Regions from separate parts of the Homo sapiens genome. Here region 2 is linked to region 1. Evidence: fine-mapped expression QTL. Tissue or cell type: testis. Region 1 holds a variant in brackets; the other region holds the start of a gene. All regions are shown on one strand. Distances are from middle to middle.

Evidence for each region. PIP is the estimated chance that this variant, and not a neighbour inherited with it, causes the effect.
Region 2: it holds the start of HFM1, and the variant in region 1 is fine-mapped to the expression of HFM1 in testis (GTEx, PIP 0.98).

What each region holds. Positions count from the first base shown.
Region 1 is chr1:90,621,655-90,629,764 of GRCh38, forward strand. No RefSeq gene overlaps it. Among named protein-coding and RNA genes, the nearest start is that of SNORD3G, 32 kb to the right of the region's middle. The variant G/A (reference allele first, on the strand shown) is at 4,811.
Region 2 is chr1:91,400,176-91,408,285 of GRCh38, forward strand. It overlaps HFM1 (helicase for meiosis 1), which reads right to left and starts at 4,662. Exons shown (of 39, transcript NM_001017975.6): 1 at 4,623-4,662; 2 at 837-934. The coding sequence starts at 907. RefSeq lists a silencer at 4,257-4,636.

The DNA.
Region 1 (8,110 bases):
ATCAGTTAGGCATATTTTAATGCATTCCTCAATGTTCATTAACATGCAAAGCCCATTTGTTTCATGACCAGCCATTTTTCAAATTCTCAACCTCAATTCTTGTTTTATTTCACTCTGCACACAACTCTAAATTAGATTGTAAACAAGGACCTGTGAGGAAACAGAATCAAACACAACTTTCATAATTATTAGAAGTGTTCACTCTCATTAACAAGGGGTAATTGTTTCTGTTTTGTAAATTGATCTAAGATGAAAGGAGTTAGTTAATAATTTACACTGTACTATGGAAAAGGGGCTGTGAAAAGACTCTACGGAAGGATTTGAATTAAACAGCCTTTCACCCTTTTAATATCTCACAAGAGATTCTTCTGCACTGGTTCATTTAATTTAGTGGACACCGCAGTGTGGCTCATTGATTGTGGACAAAACTTCTGAAGAGCCTGGTGTGCACCCCTGTTAAAACGTGGGAAGAGAGTAAAGTTGGATGTGAATTAATTTGATTCTGTACATAATTCTTTTTCAATGGGATTCTGTGTCCCATTGCAAAGGCATGAAAAAAGGAGACACTGAGTTTGATTGCTCAATATTCATCTACATTTTCCTCTCTATGGGCACAATATGCTTGGCTTAATTAACTTTTCTCAAAGGTGAAGCAGTGCGCACCATCTGCTGTGAGACAATCACATTTGTATGCCTCTCAGAATAATCCCTTTACTACTGAAAACAGCTATCATATAGTAGCCAAAACCAAAACTTTCAAACATTTTTGGCCTGGGAGAGAAAGACCAAATCCATTCTGGTCCAGAGGCACAGTGCTGGGAAACAACATTCAGCAGACGCAAAGGTTGTTTTTGTTACAGCCCAACTCCTTGCTCGCGGATGATTTTGAATTTACCTTGTCTTCCCTACACCACCAAATTAAAAATTCTACATGCTTCATTTAAAGCCCAGCTCAAGAACAACTGCACAGCGGGAGCATCCTCCTTTTCTCCTACCTCTTAATTTCAAACCAACAGAAGAATAGGAAAGTGCACCTTGAAAAGAATCATCAAGTCACTCAAAATCCCAATGCAAAATATTGAGGCAAAGTTTAGCCATTTAATTTTTTAATCAAGCCTCAAGGACCACACAGTGTTATCAAGGGCCTGCTGAACTTGCTCGAAAGCTGGGTCATTATTTGATCTTTGTGGCTGGTAATCTGATTATCTCATTGTGGAGGTAAACTTCAGACCCAATCTTGTTAGCAGCTGGCGAAGCTGGATTACTACAGCTACTGAACTGGAAAATGAACTGAGCAGTCCAGCTTTGGCCTTGCTCTCTTTGAGCCCACAGTTGGCTACTTCAGGGTATACACTTTTGCGTCTGAATCAGCACTTTATTCTAGAATTTCGCACCGCAGTGTAAACATATTCTCTAATGATAATGTCGAGCTAGGACTCTGATACACAGCACATCCTCACATACATACACCTATATTCCAGTGTGTATTCATATGCATACCAGCTCCAGAGCATCCAATACAGGTAATGCTCTGGTCAGAAAGGGATATGGCCCAAGATACTTAATGAAGGAAATTAATGAGCAGCATTCTTTGCTTTGAGATTCACACTCAACAGAGTTGCTAAATTATGCAAATACTCACAAGAGTTGTGTGGTCTCTGCTTAAGACACTTACAGTTTTGCTTGTGGTCTCACTGAGGCATTGACTGCTTTTACAGTGAATGCCCAGCCCCGTCAAAGCCCAGAAAGTCTTGAAACATAGCTTGAAAGAGTTCAAAGGATCTAAAAGACAAAAAAGGACTAAGCTGGGATTTTTATGTACACTGAAAAGAAGAATAAAATATAAGTTCCTTAATGCAGGCTGTTATGGCAATGTTACCCATATCAAAGCATTACGGTGCTCCGACGGAAGAGTGTTGAAAATTTTCTTGCGCACCATATGCAAAAGAGAAATAGGAACAATTTAGGCCGGCGGTGATTTTGTGACATGAAACATTGAATGCTCTTTTTTGACACACTATTGAGTGAACAAGGAATTCAAAGAGTTTGAACTCGAAGAAGTTTTCTGCCTCAATAAGCCATAATCAGCCCCGAAGAACTGAGTACTCCTCAGAGTAGTGGGGCTGCTCTCAAGGCTGCACAGGGTGGGTTTTGCTGGCTATTATTACGTGCATCAAAGCAAGGGCTCTTATGTGGCTTTCCTCTTATCAATTCCGCTAAAACCTCAAGTCTTTGGTGCGATTTCTGAAAACAGAAAGCTGATCAGCAGCATTCCCAAATATCAACATCTCACACAATCATCTCAGAACCACATTAGTATACAGAGCAAGTTAGACAGCAAAGCAGCTGAAAAAGAAGGCATCTTTGCTGAGTGTGTGATATCACGGACATTATTTAGTAGCACGGACAAAGGTCCTTGATTTATTTCCACAGTCTGGCGAATGAGGAAATCTTGCTATATGATTCGGGTAGAAGCTGCAAAGTGAATTTTACAAGAGATTGCTTGCTTGAAAAAGAATACCACCACCCCCCGCTTTTTTTCTCCTTGGAAAAGAATAGCCCCATTTAAAGTGCATTTTTGTATTTTCATTTATTTTTATTCTTCTCAGAACGTTTAATTCCTTTTTACAATTGTCTCTCTCAACATTTAAATTTAGATTTAACCAGAAAATGTGCAGAAATTCTTAATGTTGATATTTACCATGAAAGCTGGTTGTTTTTCAGCATCTAGTGATTAAAATTTCAATAGCCCAGTAAAGAAAATCAATTATCACTACTCCTTTTTGACATTTCTTTTAAGACAAATATATATACTTAAAATATATTTTTCAGCTTGTTAAATGATAAGCAAATTTATTACTACTAAAGTACTATAATCAAAATGCTTAATAAACCATGCTAATGTGACCATAGACAAAATAATAATCAACTATTTCTACACAAATTTACTCTAGTGTTTTATGCAACTAATTGCATCTATGTTTAAAAGCAATAACCAGTTTCTAGAATAATAACATGTCAATTTCTTAGCCATCAGGGACTGTGGCTATAGGATATGTTTCAACAGTGCAATCCAGCAAATGTTAAGAAGGGAAATTGAGCGGGAGAAAAAACATATTTTTTCAATAAGAGGTGAATGAATTTTTCTGCTGAGTTGTTTCGTCAAGCCCCAAAACTGTAATGTATGATTTTCCAAGAATGACAGGGGAGGGAGGATAAATTCTTATGTCTAAATTTAGATCTGAATTTGCAAGGAACACGTTTTAATTAAGCATGACATTTGACACAATCAGGTTTGAAGTTACCTGCCTATGCACCTTCACACCTGTGAAAATTGTTGTAAGTTCTCAGTGCAACTTAACATACAGCATCTTACATGCACAGCAGTCTACCTGTGATAGACCATTCAAGAGAGAATTTGTTCTTAAAGAATATGGATATGATTTATTTTCCTAATTGTCATTTTTTCACCTGTTCATAAAATGCTCTAAATTTTTCTTTGTTAGTATGTAGGTATATTTTAAATTTCCTGTATCCTTTTCACCAAGGTCTTTTACAGAGACCTTATCATCAAATGTTAGAATTAAACTTACTCACCTACTACTAAAAGTGACAAAATACATAAAAATAAAGGTGAAAAGACAAATTTATAGGAAATTTTAAAATCACCAAAACGTCATGCTCAATGTATAAATTTTTTCAATGTGTAATTTAACAATTAAGTTGTAAATTTAAAATAATTTAATATGAAATTTGTTTTTCTATTTGTTACCAGTATCTGGATAATATTACATGCACTTAAAATGAAGAAATATATTATGGAAACTCAGAATATAGCTTCCATTTGCTAAGGAATGGTAACATAATTCAAGATTCCAAAGATAAAGTATATGGAAATAAGCCTATCAGAACCTTATGTGACAAAATAGACTGAGCAAAGCAAATTTGACTTAAGAGTAGGAAATGAGTAAAGTTGCTCTTTAAGGAAACATACCTTCCCATTTAAAAAAACAACATAATATTTCCTCTCCACTTTTCTGTCTGTGTACGAAGCAGAAAAAATTTAATTAATGGTTTGTAATCCAAATAAGTGTCAATCTTTACGTACTTATCTTAAGAGGTCACTGTCATTCTAACAATGCTGTCATTGCTTCAGCTGTATTTTGAGAACTGCTTTAGAGTTGATTTCCAAACTTCCAACAAAATTAGGACTACTACTGCTTAATAGTCAAAAACCCAACTCTCTTTTATTTTAAAGAACTAAAATTACATTACCTATTTTGAATATCTTTCCAAATTATTCATCAAATTGGGCCCTGGATGACTTTGACTGTTTTCAAAATACGAAATCCTCTTGTGAAGAATGAAGGTGTACCATATTTTAGGACTTCACAGTTATGTTCCACGGTCTCCAACAGCAATCCACAAATAAGAGCGACGACATTGTTTAAATTACAGTAGTCAACATCATTGTATTAAGTACGGAACCACGAAGGTGGCAACTTTGACCAGGGTCACATTTTCTTGTCATCACTCCTTCACATGCATACAAGGGTATATAAGGAGGTAGTGTTTTATAAAGCACTTAGCACCACAAACATTCAATAAATCGTTGCTATTATCATTGTATTATATAATAAGAGATAGTTTTAGCAGTGGTGACTATAATCTCTCTATTGAATCAAAAAGACGAGATAATAATGGACAGTCTTCAGCACACTATGCTTATAAGAATATGGTTTCTGCATTGTTGGGGTTTTTTTTATTATGGTTATTTAAATACGGGAGCTAACTTTTCTCTTTGGCTAGA[G/A]GCATCCCCCTTACCTGTTCACTCATTACTCTGCTGATGGTCGTTGCCCTTCCCCCAAATTCTGTCACATCATTTAAATCTTTCTCCTGTATATATACTTTGTTTATCTTTGTATTCCTAGCTTGTAGTCTTCTAAATTCTGTTTATTATGTTGCTTGAGTTACTTATTTGGAGATCATGCCATCAGATAAGCTTGTATCACTTTTGACAAAAGCCACTGCAAAGCCAGTACAGGAGATGACGGCAGGTATAGTGTGATTTGGAGTAAGGCAGTGAGTAGATACTGTTGTGTTCCACCCAAATCCCCTCTTCAGGGTTGATTTACTCATCCTTCAGCTACTGGGGGATTTAACACCAGCAAACAATGGTAACACACTGCTAGACTGTTCCCTAGAAGTTTGGAAAATCAATGGCTCACACTAAGTAGAAATTACAGAATTGCTATATTATTGAGGGGGAAAAGAATTTAAAATATCAGAGTAGGCCGGGCACAGTGGCTCACGCCTGTAATCCCAGCACTTTGGGAGGCCAAGGCGGGTGGATCACGAGGTCAGGAGATCGAGACCATCCTGGCTAACACGGTGAAAACCCATCTCTACAAAACATACAAAACATTAGCCAGGCGATGTGGCGGGCGCCTGTAGTCCCAGCTACTCGGGAGGCTGAGGCAGGAGAATGGCGTGAACCCGGGAGGTGGAGCTTGCAGTGAGCCGAGATCCCGCCACTGCACTCCAGCCTGGGCGACAGAGCCAGACTCAAATAAATAAATAAATAAATAATAAAATAATAAATAAAATATCAGAGAAAGGGGTATGTTAGAGTGGATATGCTATGTGAAGCCAGAAAACCTCCCAGACAACTGTTTATGAAAAGGCCCAGAGTATACTCCATTTACCAAAGTTATTGATATGAAATGTAGTAGATAAAGAAACACCTGCATCATTGAGAAGCTCAGTGGTATACAGGCCAGGGCTGATAGCAAGAGGTATTGCCAGAGCAGGGATTATTCCAGAATCCTGATAAAAGAGGCCAAGTGATGACACTTAACCATCAAAACCAAGGTGAGCACAATTATTTTGATGAATTGCAAGATTGGAATGGCAACTAGGGCTCCTCAACCCTCAGAGAAACATGGAGATGGTTCCTGGAACACAGTGTTCATAGAGGCAAAAGAAGTGGGCAGACAATAAGGATATTGCTTAATTTATGCTCTTTTTTAAAAAAAAAAATCAAGGATGAATGTTTAGATGATCAGAAAGCTAAAGGCAACTACTCTGGTAAAGTCACAATTTATTGTCCAGACCCAAGCCAGTTCTCAAATTCAGAACCTATTGACTAAAGGAAACACCAGGTCCCTATGAGGATGAACGCTACAACATTGCATCAAACGTATTCAGTAGCAATTCTCCCAGTCCTTTCCTAAAGGAATTGATGGCCCATTTACTTGGGTAACCATGTTTTGGAGAAAGCGGACTACTCAGACCTTTCCAGGATTATTAACGCAGGGTCTAAAATGTCATTGATATCTGGGGAATCAAAGCACCACCATGGCTTGTTTTAGAGGGGGAACATAGGGGGCAAGGTAATAAATGAGGTTGTGGCATGGTTCTGGCTCAGGTTGAGTCCACTCAATCCACTGGGTACTTCAACCCACCTAGTGATCATTTCCTGGTCCCCAAATACCTAATTGGATGTGCTGAGGCCTCAGCTGCAACTGCTCTGTGGGGCAGTTCGTCCTGCCCAATCCTGCCCTCCTCACTTCCTTACAGGGTGACTACTCAGACCAAACCCCAAGATAATTTCTTTATACAAGTCTCCAGTTCAGAATCAGTTTCAGGGAATCCAATCTAATTCAGTAAGTTTAAATCAGTCTTTATAAATGAAAATATTGAATTTTTGTGGGGTGAGCTGATAGTTTAAAAAATCAGACCAATGTGTCACCATGTTGACTTAAAAATGTTATCTATGAGTTTATGTCTAATTCCTGAAGAAGCCTGTTTTTAAAAACAGGAAAAAACATTTAATGTATATACATACCATATGACTGCATTTACACAACATTCTTGAAATTGCAGCTATAGGAATAGAGCACAGATTAGTGGTTACAGAGTTAAAAGAGTGTGGGGGAGGGAAGGAAGTTGAGGTGGCTATAAAATGGCAACATAAGGGAAACTTGTGTGACAGAAATGTGGGTATTGACTATCATTGTCGATGTTCTAGTTGTGACATTGTACTGTAGTTTCACAAATGGTTACCATTAGGAGAAAGTAGGTAAAGAGTATATGGGATCTCTTTGTATTATTTCTTTTTTTTTCTTTTTTTTTTTTTTTGAGGTAGAGTCTCCCTCTGTTGCCCAGGCTAGAGTGCAGTGCTGTGATCTTGGCTCACTGCAGTCGCCAAACCTCCACCTCCCGGGTTCAAGCGATTCTTCCGCCTCAGCCTCCCAAGTAGCTGAAACTACAGATGAGTGCCACCACGCCAGGCTAATTTTTGTATTTTTAGTAGAGATGGGGTTTCACCATGTCAGCCAGGCTGATCTTGAACTCCTGACTTCAAATGATCCACCCGCCTCAGCCTCCCGAAGTGCTGAGATTACAGGTGTGAGCCACCGTGCCTGGACTCTTCGTATTATTTCTTAAAACTGCATGTGAACCTACAATTATCTCAACATTAAAAGTTTAATTTAAAAATATAAATGTATGTATGTGTCTATGGAAAACATTAATGAACAGCTTTTTATAAATTGAGCTTGAATGAATGAGGTTATTCTAGGTTATTGGTTAATAGGTCCAAAACACAGAATAAAGTAAAAAATAATATGAAAGATTAGACTTTTGCAAATGACAGTTTACTAGTTCCATTAGGAATCTTCCTTCAATCATAGAAGTAGGCATGCTCTAAAAAGTTTTCAAGGGGCTTTATGAATAGGAATAAACATTTGGATTTATCTAATGTACACTTTTTGAATTTTCTTATACTATCTGAAAAAAATCTATAGCCAATACGTTTGTCTTACACATCTTAATGAAGAAAAGAAGTTTCTGAAATTTATGCCTGCTTCTGAAAAAACCTCTAAGCCAATAGAAATTGAATTAAATTGACACTGACAACAACTTTTAAATTCAGTCAGTAGAATTTTGAGACTGAGCATGGCATAATTTTTAAAGATTGATATTAGAGGAAGGGGAGAGATGGATAGACAGAGATAGAGAGACAGAACAAAAAGACAGAGACAGACAGATATCTAATTGAAGAGAATCCGATTCTGCACAGTTCATGAAAGCTTTTTCTCAAGATCCA
Region 2 (8,110 bases), 780 kb after region 1:
ACACAGAAAATTCAAAATTGAACAATGCACATGAAAATCCATAAAAGCCAGTATTTAACATACTACCTACTCTCTAGTCTTGTTTTCTTTGGTCTCACATCTTTATTCCCGCCCCTACTTCCTGCCAGCATTTAATGTGCCTATCATACTTTGCCTTTGGCATACTGTCCATTCTGTTTCCAGATGGTGACGTCATTCCTTGTCCTGAGCTACTCTTTGAGCATTATTTCCCATCTTTAGCTTGGCCAAAAATAATCTGAACAAACCAGAAATACAAATAAATGCAAGCCAAATAGGCAAGAATCTTTTTTTTTTTTTTTTCTTTTGATAGAGTTTCACTCTGTTGCTCTGGCTGGAGTGCAGTGGCGCCACCTTAGCTCACTGCAACCTCCGCCTCCGGGCTTCAAGCAATTCTCATGCCTCAGCCTCCCAAGTAGCTGGGATTAGAGGCATGCGCCACCAGGCCTGGCTAATTTTTTTGTGCTTTTAGTAGAGACAGGGTTTCACCATGTTGGCTAGGCTGGTCTTGAACTCCTGATTTCAGGTGATTCACCCGCCTCAGCCTTCCAAAGTGCTGGGATTACAGGCGTGAGCCACTGCGCCTGGCCCAAATCTATTCTATTTTTAAAATTATAACATTTAAGATGTTAAACTTCAGTTACTCCCCTATACTACTGGTAAGAGAATTCCATGTTTACCAAATATGTAACTGAAATATCGTTCTGTTGATTCCTCATTTTTATTTGTATATTTACCAGAGAGAAAGCTAAAACTCACCCAAATTCAAAAAACCCTAAAGTAATATACTATGCTATCAATCTTTAAGGGAGACTTACTTTTCAACTTCATCTGGTTTTTCAAAAAACAAATTTTCCAAAGAAAACAGGCAATCATTTGATTTCAGCATTGTTGAAAACTGGACTTTGTCATAAATCTACAAAATATGGAAAAAGTAGTTTATATTTTATTTATAAAGATGTAAAAAAATATTTCTGTATAATCACTAATTTTCCACAGTCTCCTGTAAAATATAACCACAGACTATCCTTCCAGCTTCATCGTCTGCAACTTCCTTCAAAGCACCTCAATATTCACATACATTATTCTCTGTTTTCCATTCATTCATGGATTCACACTTGCTCCCTTCTCTTCATAGTGCTCCAATGCTTGGAATGTGTTTTCTGCCATTCTCCAACTGGCAAATTCCTAACCATCCTTCAAGTTATAGGTCAAATGTCATTTCTTCTTCAAAGGCTTTTCTGAATTTGTCTTCTTCCTCAAGGCAGAATTAATCAGTCTTCTTGGGCTCTTAATACTTTGTTCACACCATTATTTTCAAGTTAGGACAGCACATTTTATTGTGAATGTGTGCACCTCTAACAATATACTATGTACATATGCAGGGATTTGCTTCAAAATAAAGGGGAGAGATGAAGGAGTATTGAAATAATATTGACAATGAGTTGATCAAAGCTAAAGCTATGTAATAGGTACATGGGGTTCATTATAATATTTTTTCATAGGTTTGAACTTTTTCAAAATAAAAAAATTACAAGTTTAACATACATATGCATATTTATTTATATGAGTTAATGCATATACTACACACGTTTACATTCTTTTTTAAAAGATAATTTTTGCACTCAGAGATATTATCTAAACATAAAGGATAAAAACATTCAGCATTGGCCACCTTTGAACATAACAAAAATCTGGGGCTGAACAAAGATGCAAATGTGATTAAAAAAAAAAACTAGTCTCTAGATACATACATTGCTCCCATTAGAATTATTTTTCCCTGCATATCCTATTTTTTTCTAAATTCTTAAACATCATAGAACATTCTATATGACAAACCATAAAATCAGACGAACAAACTGTAAAACATAAATCACATTTCTGTTTCTTCTGTTTTAGTTAATACATTGTAAATTTGTCCTCAAGATAGAAACTACAATCAAAGAAATTCTATTAATGCCATCTAGTGGAGAAATACGCATTACCAAGTCAGATTATGTCTCTCCAATTTTGAATCCTCCTTGATGTGGGGATGAGATACAAGTGGGAGTGATATGGGGAAGGGAGAATGTTTCCACATACAACACTTGACAAATGCTACTGTATGAGAACTAAACCTGTATATATACTTCAGGGCTGTTCTTACTGATATAGAATATTGTGGGGTTTTTCACTGTTTTCGTTATTGGGTTCTTCCCCCTTCCATCTGTTTAATATAATTGCCCTCTTCATTTTTCTCTATCTATTAATCAGTTACCAACAAAAACAAGTAGTAAAAATGAAACAAACTAGTGTGGTTCTATAAATGTCTAAAACAATTTGACTATACGAAAAATAGAAGCCTAGGATAATAGGGCAGGAGGTAGAGGGAGTCATTCAGAAATATGCGAAGTCTTTAACAGCTTTAAGTAAACAATTTCAGAACTTGAAAACAATTATCTGAAAAAGTATAAATGAAAATGTTAATCATGTTTTTATATTGCCCAAAAAGTAACAAATAAAATGTTCCCTTTCTAGTTTTAGGAAAACTATGTTCAAACAAAAGAAACTTTTCCTAAAATAAACCTCACCAGACCAGTTTCATATGGCTTTGCTACCTCAGAATTTAAGTCAAAAATCTTAAGGCTAACATTTATACACTTGAATACTTTCTTCCTAAAGCAACTACAAATAGACAACAAAACTACAAATTTAAAACATTTGGGAAGAAAAGCGTTGCATAAACTGACAAAAACCTCCTATACAAACAGCAAATATTTTCAAAAGAATTTTTGATTTCTAGTTCTAGCATACAAGAATATAACTTGTTTGGGTTCAGAATAAAAATATCATGTACATATTTTAGTTCTTATATACTCCTGTGAAAAAACACCCCTTATCTAAAACTGCATCCTCTCATTCCGCATTATTTTTCTTCATAGCATGAACTGATAACTAACATTATAGTATATGCTTAGTTGTTTATTATGTTTCTCCCTTTAGAGCAAGCAGGGACTTTTTGCTCATTAATGTGTTCCAATAACCCAGAATAGTGCCTGGCACACAGTAAATGGTCCATAAGAATGCATTGTGGAATAAATGCATTAGCAAGAACCAGTTTATAAAAATAGTGTCAAATAAAAATAATTTTCTGTTAATTTAGAAACTTAAAATTTGAGCCCCAATCTTCAACGTTCAGTTAAAAAATGTGAAATTTTTTTCTAGTTCAGGATTTATGTAAATAAAATCATGAAGGTTCTAAAAGATGATGAATTTGGCACTTTCATTATGTAAATCTTTTTTTAAAAAAGAAACACAGGTCCTAAAAGGGACCTTGCTACAGTTCAGTATGAGTTTGTGATGTGAGGGGATGCTATTTTAAATTAATTAAAGTTCTAGGTTTAGATTCAGATTTTTTAAGTTCCTATTATTTATTATTAAAGTTTTAGTTTCAGCACGTGGCACAAAATTAGATTGCCAAACACAATAAACAATATCATCCCAGGTAGTTTTAAGTGTCTGCTCTGCTATAATCACTGTTAAAATACTTAAGCTATTTTTGAGTCTACATAATTTGCGGTGCCGACCTTCTCTAGTTATATTAATGACAATCTCTAGTTAAATATTAATACAACTAGATACAATTAATCTTTAGTTATATTAATGACAATTCACCATTTTGTCTTCTGTAATCTTTACTTATTGTATAAAATTATTGTATACAATTATTGTATAAACTTATTGTATAAAATTGCAGGCCTATTACTTCTTACAATTTTTACTCAGAAACATACTCCTTATTTTAAAAGTACAGAAACTCAGATAAAAATTATTGATTTGCTAGAAATTTTTGTGAGTTAAGGAAGAAGTAGGGACCAACATTTACGGGAATAACCGACCGTCACAAATAACTGCAGAGAATCTGACAAAGAAGGAAAAATCAACGGGAACAAATTACTCCGAGGCTCGGCCTGGGAAAGGACCATACAATTGTCGGAGCCCCAGATCTCACCCCCTCTCCCCAGGCACCAACAGGGCTGGCTGGAAGGGTCCGGCTGGGGACCGAATCAGCACCTAAAGCAAAATAACAGCTCTGTGGATTTCCTAAGGAGAATATCCTAAATCCAAGGCAGAGGCCTTAGGGCCCCGAGAGTGGCACAAGAACGGGGCGCTGGGGCGCGTCACTCCACCCCCCGGGTCCCGTTTCCTCCCACCGCTGTGAAACCCGCGGCTCAGACAGATGGGTACGTCCCCCCCAGCGCTCGCTCAGGGGGCGCCACACACCGGAACACAAGACACAGGAACCGAACACCAATCAGCCGACTTTAGGGGCGGGCCGGACGCCCAGCCGGTCCCACCTCGCGGGGAGCTGGGCCCGCCCTGCGCCCGAGCGCGCCGCAGGCCTCACCGCTTTCTGACTGGAAATGCGGCTGAGGCGCTGGCGCGGGCCGGCGGCCTGGAGACGCCTGGTGACCAACAACTCGCCGCGCCCGTCCGCTGCCTGCCCGGCAGACGGCTCTAGAGATCGACCGCTGCCCGGACGGCTCGGCTGGGTCCCCACTTCCCCGCGGGCGTCGGGCCCCCGTCCCCACCTTCCCCGCGGGCGTCCGGGCCCCTCTCCTCACCTCCCTGCGGACAGCTCCTAGGCCAGTCGAGCGCCGATTTATCAGCCCCTCTGAGGACCGCCAAGCCTGGCTAAGCCGAGCTCCAAGCAATGGATCGCCCAAGCCCCCAACCTCTCCCTTCCTACCTTTTTTTCTCCGAAAGTTTATAACTGGTTTTGAATATATCTCTTGCAGTTTACTGTGTCTATTCTCTTTAAATACAGCTCCTAATCCTGGGTTCTAAGGGTCTACTAAATGGTACCCTTTCCCTAAGCTAACCTGCTTCTCTACCCCCACAACCACCACTCCACAAACATACCCCAACCTGCCTTTCTCATCAAAGTTAGCCAGGCCTCAGCTCTGGGACTTCCGGTCTCTTCGTACCTAAAAAGTGTTTTACCTATATTATTTATAAAATATCACAGTGGCACTCATGAGGTCGGTATTACTGGGGAACTTGATTCAGAAATAAAGTTAAATTTCAGAAATAAATATTCTAAAACACAATGATATTTAAATGTGTTTAGCCAACATGAATTTATAAAAACAGGGCAATAATGTGTTCTTAGGCTGTAAACATGAACAAACTATAAATTATCCTTTTAAGTTTCTTTAGAATTGTCCTCTGAAGATTTGGCAGGGAATGTTTTGTAGATGATAAAATAGCAACGAATCAATGATGCTTTTCTTACAGAGACATTTATCTTTCCTTTGGAAACCCCCACCTGTGACATCTAGGGCCAACCTACTGCTGTCTGACTGCCCTATTCCTGTTCTCTTTTTTCTTGCAGTTCTACTGTTCATTAGCTATATGACCTTGGAAAAGACCCAACCTTTAAGTCTTAATTCTGCATCCTCAGTGATACTCATAAGCTCTAACTCCTAGATACTGCTGCAAGGGTTAAATAAAATAATATTTGCAGTAGTCCTACCACACAGTAAATGCTCATGAATATTAATTTCTTTCACCTTCTCTGAAATGTAAAATTATTCCAGTAATTGGGTGAGCCAGTTATTTGGATACTGATAAAATAACAAGTCTTTGTCTCTTGGAGAAAATAACATTTTGACTGCATAAACTATTCTTAATAGAAAGGTTGAATTATCATTCCTCTCAAAAATACTGGAGAGGAAAGTTACTTTCCATAGACTGCATAGAGGAAAATAACGAAACAGTGCATTTGTTATAGTGAACCCCTCAATGTGTTGAAATTCATACATTGAATTCTAACCCCCGATGTGATGATATTTGAACGTGGGACTTTTGTGAGGTAATTAACTCAAAAGGGTAGAGCCTTCATGAGTAGGATTGTGCCCTTTTAAGAGGCCAGAGAGTTAGCTCGCTCTTTTCCTACCATGTGAGGATACAGGAGGACGGTATCTGCAAGCCAGGAAGGAGGCCCTCGCCAAATACCGGATCTGCCTGCACTGTGATCTTGGACTTCTCAGGCACCAAAATTGTGACAAATGTTTGTTGTTTAAGCCACCCAGCCTATGGTAATTTGTTATAGCAGCTTGAACTAAGATAGGGTTTGAGTGATAGAATTGTAGAATTCAGCAACAGGCAGGTACAGGGGAGTCTTACTGTCAAAGCACACAGTAGCAAATGGCCACCATGTTCATAAACAAAAACATTCATTCATTCACTCACTCATTTATTCAAGAATGCATGTGGAATCTATAGAGCCTTACTTTCTCTTAAAATAATGTAATAAAAATGTCAAAGCTGCAGTTTTTAAAAGGAAGCCTCAGGACAGTGATAAAGTTACTAAAAATCCCATTTTGGGGGGAGGGATTACCATGGTTTTTAGTAATGTTGCCACATTTCTCAAGAAAACATTTTAATCCTAAAGATTTAATTTTACAACCAGTGCAACAATGTCATAAGCAATCCTCCAAATTGAATAACATAACTAACATTTGAAATATAGTCTTCCCGGTCAACTTCTGGCATGACTGCATAAAGAGCTTTGCTACCTCACTTCTCAGTGAAACTGGTGAAAATTCTAGAAAAATGACTCAGACCCTCTGGAAATGATCCTAAGGGCAAACAGCAAAAGAAGAAACATCTTTTCAAGAAAGAGATACAAAAATTTGGTAAGAAAGGCAAGGCTCTGTGGTATTTTATCCAAGACTCCCAAGTTCCAGCTTAGCAAGACAGGCTCCATTCTAGACAGCTGCAGCCAAGAATACAGAGCTCTCTCTGCACCCAGCTCCCACTAGAAGGCGCGCTTTCTTTCTTTCATTGTGGTAAAACATGCGTAATATTTATAATTTTAACCATATATAAGTGTATAATTCAGGGACATTAAATACACTCATAGTGTTGTATAACCATCACTCTTATCCATACCCAAAACTTTTTCATTATCCCCAACAAGAAATTTGTGCCCATTCAGGGAGGGGAACTTCACACACTGGGGCCCGTTGGGGGGTGAGGGGCTGGGGGAAGGATAGCATTGGGAGAAATACTTAATGTAAATGACGAGTTGATGGGTGCAGCAAACCGACATGGCACATGTATATCTATGTAACAAACCTGCACGTTGTGCACATGTACCCCAAAACTTAAAGTATAAGAAAAAAAAAAAGAAATTTCTGCCCATTAAACAGGAACTCCTTCTTTTCCCCTTTCCCTAATTCCTGGTAACCTCTATTCTACTTTCTATTTCTATGAGTTTACCTATCCTAAGTACTTCATATAAGTGGGATCATACAATATTTGTTCTTCTATTTCTGGATTATTCACTTAGCATAATGTTTTCAATGTTCATCCATGTTGTAGCATGGATCAGAATTTTACTCCTTTTTAAGGCTCAATAATATTCTATTGTATTTATATACCACATTTTGTTTATCCATTTGTAATCCTGGCTAAGGGACATTTGAGTTGTTTCCACATTTCCACCTTTTGGCTATTGTGAATAATGCTTCTATGAACATTCGTGTGTAAATATCTCCGTTCAAGTCCCTGCTTTCAATTCCTTTGGATATGTACCTAGGAGTGGAATTGCTGGGACATATGGTAATGCTATTACAGCCAATGCCATGAGTTCTAGCTGATGTATCCAACATAACCAAAATTTTCTTCACTTTGTAACATCCACATCTTTTACACCCTGATTAGTCAGTAGAAATTGATATTGAAAAATTAGTCTCAGGCTGGGCAACACAGCGAGACTTCATCTCTACCAAAATTTTAAAAACTAACCAGGTGTGGTGGTGTGTGCCTGTAGTCCTAGCTGCTTGGCAGGCTGAGGCAGGAGAATGGCTTGAACCAAGGAATTCCAGGCTGCAGTGAGCTGTGATCCCACTACTGCACTCCAACCTGGGCAATAGAGCAAGATCCTGTATCTAAAAAAGCAAGAAAGAAAAAAGAAAAATTAGTGTTGATGGCTCTAGAGAAGCAGGAACCAAGAAATGTTGAGGTTTCAAGACTATTTTTCTGCAGATGACAGCCAGAAATGTGTTGTGTTTTTTATTGTCAGATTTGGACAAGAAACAGTGAA